Homo sapiens: one gene and its partner. The protein of the gene in region 1 interacts with the protein of each later gene in a biochemical or structural test. Each region holds a gene or a part of one and is shown on either strand. Other genes may lie near its edges.

Evidence for each region. The genes of interacting proteins can lie anywhere in the genome.
Region 2: the proteins of DNM1 (region 1) and ITSN1 form a complex in vitro, tested with the Homo sapiens proteins (2 studies listed by BioGRID and IntAct, with this or other methods).

What each region holds. Positions count from the first base shown.
Region 1 is NC_000009.12:128,220,379-128,223,978, reverse strand, and holds part of DNM1 (dynamin-1), read right to left. Parts: intron 1,783-3,600; coding exon 1,640-1,782; intron 1,519-1,639; coding exon 1,383-1,518; intron 1,187-1,382; coding exon 1,119-1,186; intron 1-1,118. UniProt on the Homo sapiens protein: Catalyzes the hydrolysis of GTP and utilizes this energy to mediate vesicle scission and participates in many forms of endocytosis, such as clathrin-mediated endocytosis or synaptic vesicle endocytosis as well as rapid endocytosis (RE).
Region 2 is NC_000021.9:33,640,526-33,644,125, reverse strand, and holds the start of ITSN1 (intersectin-1), read right to left. Parts: upstream 1,626-3,600; 5' UTR 1,413-1,625; intron 1-1,412. UniProt on the Homo sapiens protein: Adapter protein that provides a link between the endocytic membrane traffic and the actin assembly machinery. Acts as a guanine nucleotide exchange factor (GEF) for CDC42, and thereby stimulates actin nucleation mediated by WASL and the ARP2/3 complex.

The DNA.
Region 1 (3,600 bases):
CTCCCGGGTTCACGCCATTCTCCTGCCTCAGCCTCCCAAGTAGCTGGGACTACAGGCGCCTGCCACCACGCCCGGCTAATTTTTTCGTATTTTTAGTAGAGACAGGGTTTCACCGTGTTAGCCAGGATGGTCTCGATCTCCTGACCTCATGATCCGCCTGCCTCGGCCTTCCAAAGTGCTGGGATTACAGGCGTGAGCCACCGCGCCCGGCCCTAATGAGGCTCTTTGGGGCAAGACAAGGTGGTTGAGTATCTGATATGTAAGTCCTGCTTCCTCGTAAGGGTCTGTGCATATAGGAAGTTCTATGGCCAGAAATGGCTTGAAAATTGCCAAACGTGGTTCTCCATAAGAGCCTTTCCAGGAATAGAGTGTTTTGTTTTAAGACTAGGAAAGAGATCTTTTTTCTGTGAATTGGCCAGTGCAGTTATCAGGAAGTAAATTCCATGCCAAATCTTGGAAATGAACCTGCATGAGAGCAAGGGGACACTGGGTCTTGTTCACTGCTTGGCATAGGGTAGGTGCTTTAAATTTTCCGGCCCAGTGGATTTGTTGGATGAACACAGCATAGATCTGGGTCCCTGAAGGGGATCTAAGCTTTTAAGGAACAGATTCCACCTCCCAATCCTGTTTCCTACTCCACGGGTTGCCTAGAAGGAGGGCGGTGGGGTGGAATGGGACTGACTCTGGGCTACTGTGAATACAGGAGGGTGTGGAGGATTGCAAAGTCCCCGGCCGTCATAAAAGGACACAGCCTCATACTTAGATGCTCCACCCCAGGCCCTCGTAGTGGTTTGGACATCTTTGTCCGGTTACCTGGGTGGCACTGGGGGAGCTATCTCACCCTGGGGATGGGCCCAGCCCCAGAGGGTGTTTCCCCGGCCACCTGCGCCCTGGGCTGTGCCCAGTTGGCCCAGCAAGTTGCAGTAGGCGGGGTGGCCCGGGTCCACCTCCCCAAGCTGGAGCCTGTCATGCAGGGAGCCAGAAAGTTGGGGTCGAGAGGACTGGGGAACAGAGCTTTCAGTCCTTCCTGAGGGAGGCCCACTTCATCACTCCCTGTGCCTCTGTCCCAGACCCCCTACTTCTGGGGTTCAGCCACCCTCCCAGGCCCCAATACGTGCCTAATGCCATGGATATTCTTGATAGCATAGCTGATCTCCCTTCGGAGTTCCTTCTCATCAAACTCCATCTGTGTAGAAAAGCAGAGAAAAGCCTGGTCAGGGCCTGTCCTACTACCTGGGAGGTCAAGACAGGGCCCACCCCACACCTAGGGCTGGGCATCAGGGCCTGTGGGGTGGGGGCCAGCAAAAACACACGCAGAGAGAGTCCTGAGTGAGGGTGGGGGGAGTCCTGAGCCATCCTGTCCCCAGGGCTGCCTGACCTACCTTGACCAGCTCGAAAGGGAAGCGCTCGTGGAAGATTCGGTTAATGCGGGCTCCCCCTGACAGTTCGTAGGTGTCGATCTGATCTCCTGAGCCCTCAATGCGCTTCTCAAAGTCTACGGCGAACTGCTGGACCATCCTGGTGGGAGAGTGGTGTGGCCTGAGGGGGCAGGAGCAGCCCAGCAAAGGGAACCCTGGGAGAGCCCCACGCTGAGAGGCTGGGGGCGGGGATTCAGTGATAGGAGCTGGGGGAGCCTCACTGCAGCAGGGCCTTGGTCTTGCGAGCTGGGTCATCAGGGCGGAAGTTCTTGTATTCCTCCACCTCCTTCTCAATGGACAGTAGCTGGCTCTGCAGCTTGTTCCGCAGCCCCGGCAGTGTGTCCCGGATGTGGTTCGTCAGTTGCTGGGGGTAAGGGTGAGGAAAGGGTTGAGGACAGATGGTCACAGGGCCAGGAAGGGACTTGGATGCCAGGGGACTGTGTGAACGTGGTGAGGTGGAGAGCTATGGAGGGCAGCCCTGCCACTGCTGCCCGGGCCACTAGCAAGAAAACTGGTTCATAGAAGGAGCTTGCAGAGATGTATTAGTTGAATTAATGAGTGCATAATTTTCAATAAAGCCAGAAATCTGGATTTGTATTTGGAATTTCCTGATTTTTGGCCAATTTAATCTTTTTATTTTTATTTATTATTATTATTTTTTTGAGACGGAGTTTCACTCGTCACCCAGGCTGGAGTGCAATGGCGTGATCTCAGCTCACTGCAACCTGCGATCTCTGCCTCCCAGTTTCAAGCAATTCTCCTGCCTCAGCCTCCCAAGTAACTGGGACTACAGGCGTGCACCACCATGCCCAGCTAATTTTTTGTATTTTTAGTACAGGTTTTCGCCTTGTTGGCCAGGCTGGTGTCGAACTTTTGGCCTCAAGTGATCCACCCGCCTCAGCCTCCCAAAGTGGTGGGATTACAGGCATGAACCACCATACCATCCCAATTTAATATTTTTAGACGTGCGTCTGAGGCAGGGGTGGCCAGAGGGCTGCCCCTTGGACCCTCTGGGTTTAAAGCCTCCTTTAAGGTCATTCTCAAGTTCTAGCACTCATGCTCACTAGGTGCCCCCACACAGTATCTCCCTGAACCTTTACAACAATCCTATGAAACAGGTCTGATCACCATTGTCTCCATTTTACAGATGCAGAAATAGAGGCTCAGAGGCCAGGCACGATTATGGCTCATGCCTGTTATCCCAGCACTTTGGGAGGCCAAGGCGGGCAGATCACCTGATGTCAGGAGTACGAGACCAGCCTGGCTAACATGGTGAAACCCCGTCTCTACTAAAAATACAAAAATTAGCCAGGCGTGGTGGTGTGTGCCTGTAATCCCAGCTACCTGGGAGGCTGAGGTAGGAGAATCCCTTGAATCCAGGAGGCAGAGGTTGCAGTGAGCTGAGATCGCACCATTGCACTCCAGCCTGGGTGACAAGAGCAAAACTCCATCTAAGAGAGAAAGAAAGAAAGAGAGAAAGAGAGAAAGAGAGAAAGAAAGAGAGAAAGAGAGAAAGAAAGAGAGAAAGAAAGAAAGAGAAAGAAAGGAAGGAAGGAAGGAAGGAAGGGAAAGAAAGAAAGAAAGAGAAAGAAAGAAAGAAGAAAGGAAAGAAAGAAAGAAAAGAAAAGAAAGAAAGAAAGAAAGAAAGAAAGAAAGAAAGAAAGAAAGAAAGAAAACAAATAAAGAAAAAAGAAATAGAGGCTCAGAGAGCCAGAGAGAGTGTCTCAGAGGGGGAGTGACAAAACTGGGATTGGAAACCAGGTCTTGCCTACACAGACAGACAGTCAGACAGACACACACACACACACACACACACACGCGCGCGCGCGCGCACTTCAGTTCTGGATGCCCCATTCCAGATGGAGAAAAGTCCTGGGGAAGCCCCTGGGATTCCCTGTCAAGGTCTTCAGCCGAGTATACTTGAATCCTGGCCCCCAAACCCAAGCTCTTCCCCATGACACCCTCCACATAGGTCTTGGCCTTCTCTGTGTTGGGGACTTCCAGGGCTTCCCTGGCAGGTCCCAGACAGGGAAAGGTCAGTGAAGCTTTGCTGCTACCTAGCTGTGGGGCTGTGGGCAAGTTGCTTTGCTTTTCTGAGGCTCAGTTTGTCTATCTGCACTACGGAGAGGCTAACCTCTGCTGTTCACTCTCAGAACACACTTAATTTATCCTGTTTTCATGC
Region 2 (3,600 bases), on another chromosome or scaffold:
TGTTTAAGCTTCTGCACTCTCAACCTTAAAGTCATCTAAAAATAAAGGTATCCCAACAAATACATTCCTCCTATTCATATTTTGGGGGTTTAGAGTGGCACCATGCAAACCAGCTGGCCTGCTGGGTCCTGGCCCCAGTTCCTGCCCTCACATCCTGTCCACTACATAATCCATGAGATCTCTGTGCCTTTCTTTTCATCCGTTCCACGGGATTAGCAAAACTGCCTCCCCGCTGACAGAACTGAGAATTTCTAGAGGCATTTGTTTGTATGGGATTTGCTGTTATTATCTACCCTCTTCATTGGCCTTGCCTTTATTATCTGTACGTTTTGATCAAGAGGAGCAGCAAGAGAAGAATGCCAACAGACAAGCACAAAGAAACGCATCTGGCCGGAGCCTGCATGTATCTAAATTTCCAGGTTGCTGCTGCCCTCAGAATAGCACTGATGATGGCAAAGTTCTAGAGGAAACTTTCATATTGAAGAGGCTATAAAAATCTCTATAGCCTCCAACTCCACAGAGAAGCCGCTAATCTATTTCTTCCAAAGCAAAGCCTTCTTGAGTCTGAATCACAACAAAAGATTGCCCATAGGAAATGTAATCTCCGAAGTTGTTTTCTAATCCCAAGGCAAGCAGAAGCGCAGGAAGGTGCGGCCGATTCCTCGCCGGTTTCCTTTTTTTGGGAATTCGGATTGCATTCGTGCAAGCAAGGGACTGCAATTGTGTCTTGGGTCCACACCACAAAACCGTGTCGGTGCGTAAGAAGGGAAGGGACGCGGCGGACCCGGGGACGCGCTCACAGGGCGCGGAAGACGCTCCCCTTTAAATGCCTTCAGGGGCGGCCCCGCGGCGCGCCCTGGGGCCGAACGGCATTGCCTGCCCTTCACTGACCCAGGATTCTGCAGGCTTGCGAGCGAGGGGCCGAGGAAGGAGCCGGGGCTCCAGGCAGAGGCGGCGCCGCTCCCGCCAACGCGGGTCCCCGGGAGGCCGGCGGGAGGCGAGGCCGGGCCGCCCCTCGCCGGCGGCCGAGGGCAGCGAGGTCAGCCCGGGAAGGAGCGGCCGCCCGGGGTCCCCGCGAGAGGAGGGAGCCCGCTCGGCGGCGGGGCCGCGGCGCCCATTCATCCCCACGCCCGTCCCGCGGCCGCCACCCCACGGCCCACCGCGGCCCCCGGCCTCCCAGTGCGGGTCCGCCCGCCACTCCGCCGCCACCCCCGAGGACGGGAAGGACAAGGCAGAGGGGCAGCCGCTGCCGTCTCTCGGGCGCGCGGCGAGGGGCTAAGGGCGGCCGGGGAGACAAGCGCCGGGCGCGGGACGGATGCCCCGGGCAGCCATCGCGCAGACCCCCGCGCCGACCCCCGCCCCCGCTGCAGCCGCCCGTGGTCCAGGCCGCCGCCTTGCAGCCCTCTCCTCACCTCATCTCCGGGCGGGTCCGCGCTGCCGCCCCAGGGACAAATCAGTGCCGCTCACGCGCCGCTGGGAGGGACGCAGGAGCCGCAGCCCCGCACACCATCCCCGCCCGCCTCTCTGTCCGTCCCGGAGCCCGCTCGGGATTCTTCCTCGCGAGCCGCCGTACTACGGAGCAACCAAGCTACGCTCCCTCCCCTGGCGCCTCCACTCTTCTCTACCTCCTTCGCTCCCTCCCTCGCTCCCTCGCTCCCGCCTATCTCCTCATCTCCCTCCGCTGCCTCCCCCGCCCCCCATCCACCATCCATCTCCGCCCATAAGTGGGTGGGGAAACCGCCAGCCAATTGGAAGAAGGGGCCCGCACCTTCTCACCACCCCCTACCACTGGCCCCGCCCACCGTGCGAACCCAAAGAGGGTGAGCCAAAGAAATGTAAGACAACAGAGTGACAAGCCGAATGAGCCAATCAGCAGGGGCTGTGTGGGGGCAGGATTAGCACTCTCCCCCTCCTCCCCATGTAGGCGTAACAGGAGATTTATGGTCTGAGGTTGCCTATCGTGGTTTATGGAGATTTTGTTGCACGATTTCGGTGCATCTGCTCGTTGCCGTGAGAGACACTAGATAGGATGCACTTAATTGACTTAATTATTGGAGGTTTTCAAGGAGAGAATAATGTGGAAAGGAAAAAGGCGAAGCACAACCCAAAGGGGTTGGCCGGGCCTATGGTTGGAATGAGGAAGGGTGTGGTCTTCGGCTAAAATTTGCATAAAACGGAACCCATCCGGGCGATTCCAACTTCGCCCATTTATTGGTAGTCCTTGGGGCGGGGCCTCGCCTCTTTCTCCGCCCCCGAGCGGAACATGACGGGAGATGTAGTTCCGAGACCGGTTGCCATGGCGTTCTGGACAGCCTCGCGAGTCCGACCCCGCCCTTCAGGAGTGACGAGCGGCCTGACCAATGGGAGCAGGGGGCGGGCTCTCTGACGAAGGACTGGAAGGTGGCGGTGGTGAAGGTGCAGGCCGTTGGGGCGGCTCAGAGGCAGGTGAGCCCCGGGAAACGCGTCCTGTGTCTTGGGAAACGGGCCTTTAAGCGAAAGGTGGAGAGATGCCCCACAGAACCGTGCAGCCCTGGGGAGGATGGTGGTTCGCGTCGAACCCTAACCTGGGACTTGTTCGGGCCCAGGCCTAGCTTAGCTGAGGCCGCTGAGGGGTGGGTAAGACTAGATTTGAGGGACAGTTTCCTGGACCTTGACGGGTTTTGATTGTAGGTCTTATCTCAGTTTGCATCTCCCTCTACTTTTATGGAGGCAGAGGTCTGGGAGTGCCCTTCCACTTAATCTCCCAGGTTGGGTTTTTCTCCTCTGCTTCTTGTTCCTAGAATTTGAGTGTCTTTTTCTTTCTCTGTTACTTCTTCTCAGCCACTTCTTTCTTCCTCATCACTTTGCTGTTTTCGGAAAGCAGTTAGTAGTTATTCGCTGTATGTGGCTTTTGAGCCAGATCGGCCCTCTTCATTATGCTAAACGGCGGAATCATCTGGAGCGAGATGTAAGCATCGCCTTGGGATAGGTCTGGGTCGGGGCCGAACATCTGCGTTTCTAAGAAGCTCCCAGGTGCTGCTGTCCACGTTATGAGTAGAAAGGTTTTACCTGAACTCTGTCCAGTACAAATATAATGCGAGTCCCTTATGTCATTTTAATTTTGGGGTAGCTACATTTAAAAAGTGAAAAGAAACACGTGAAATTAATTTTAATTATATGTTTCATTTAGCCTAGTATATCTGAGACATTATCATTTCAACGCTTAAACAAATATTTAAAAATTGAGATTTTACGTTCTTTTCTTCGTATTAAATCTTCAAAATTAAATTAAAAAATTAATTCTTCAAAATTAAATCTTCAAAATCTGATGTGTATTTTCCACTTAACAGCGCATCTCAATTCCGACTAGACACAGTTGGAGTGCTCAATAGCCACCTGTGCTAGTGGCTGCTACAGTAGCCTACTGCAGAAATTAAAAGGTGGGAAAAATAAGGTTGCATTGACCAAACCCTTTGCAACTCTATGAGATGGGATTCAGAACTACTTTAGAGATTCTCTGTAATTGAGATGTGCCCAATTTACAGAAATAATAGTCAAAATAGCCAACATTTCTGAAAGTATGATGTTGCGCTGAGTGCTTTGCAGGTATTATTTAATCCT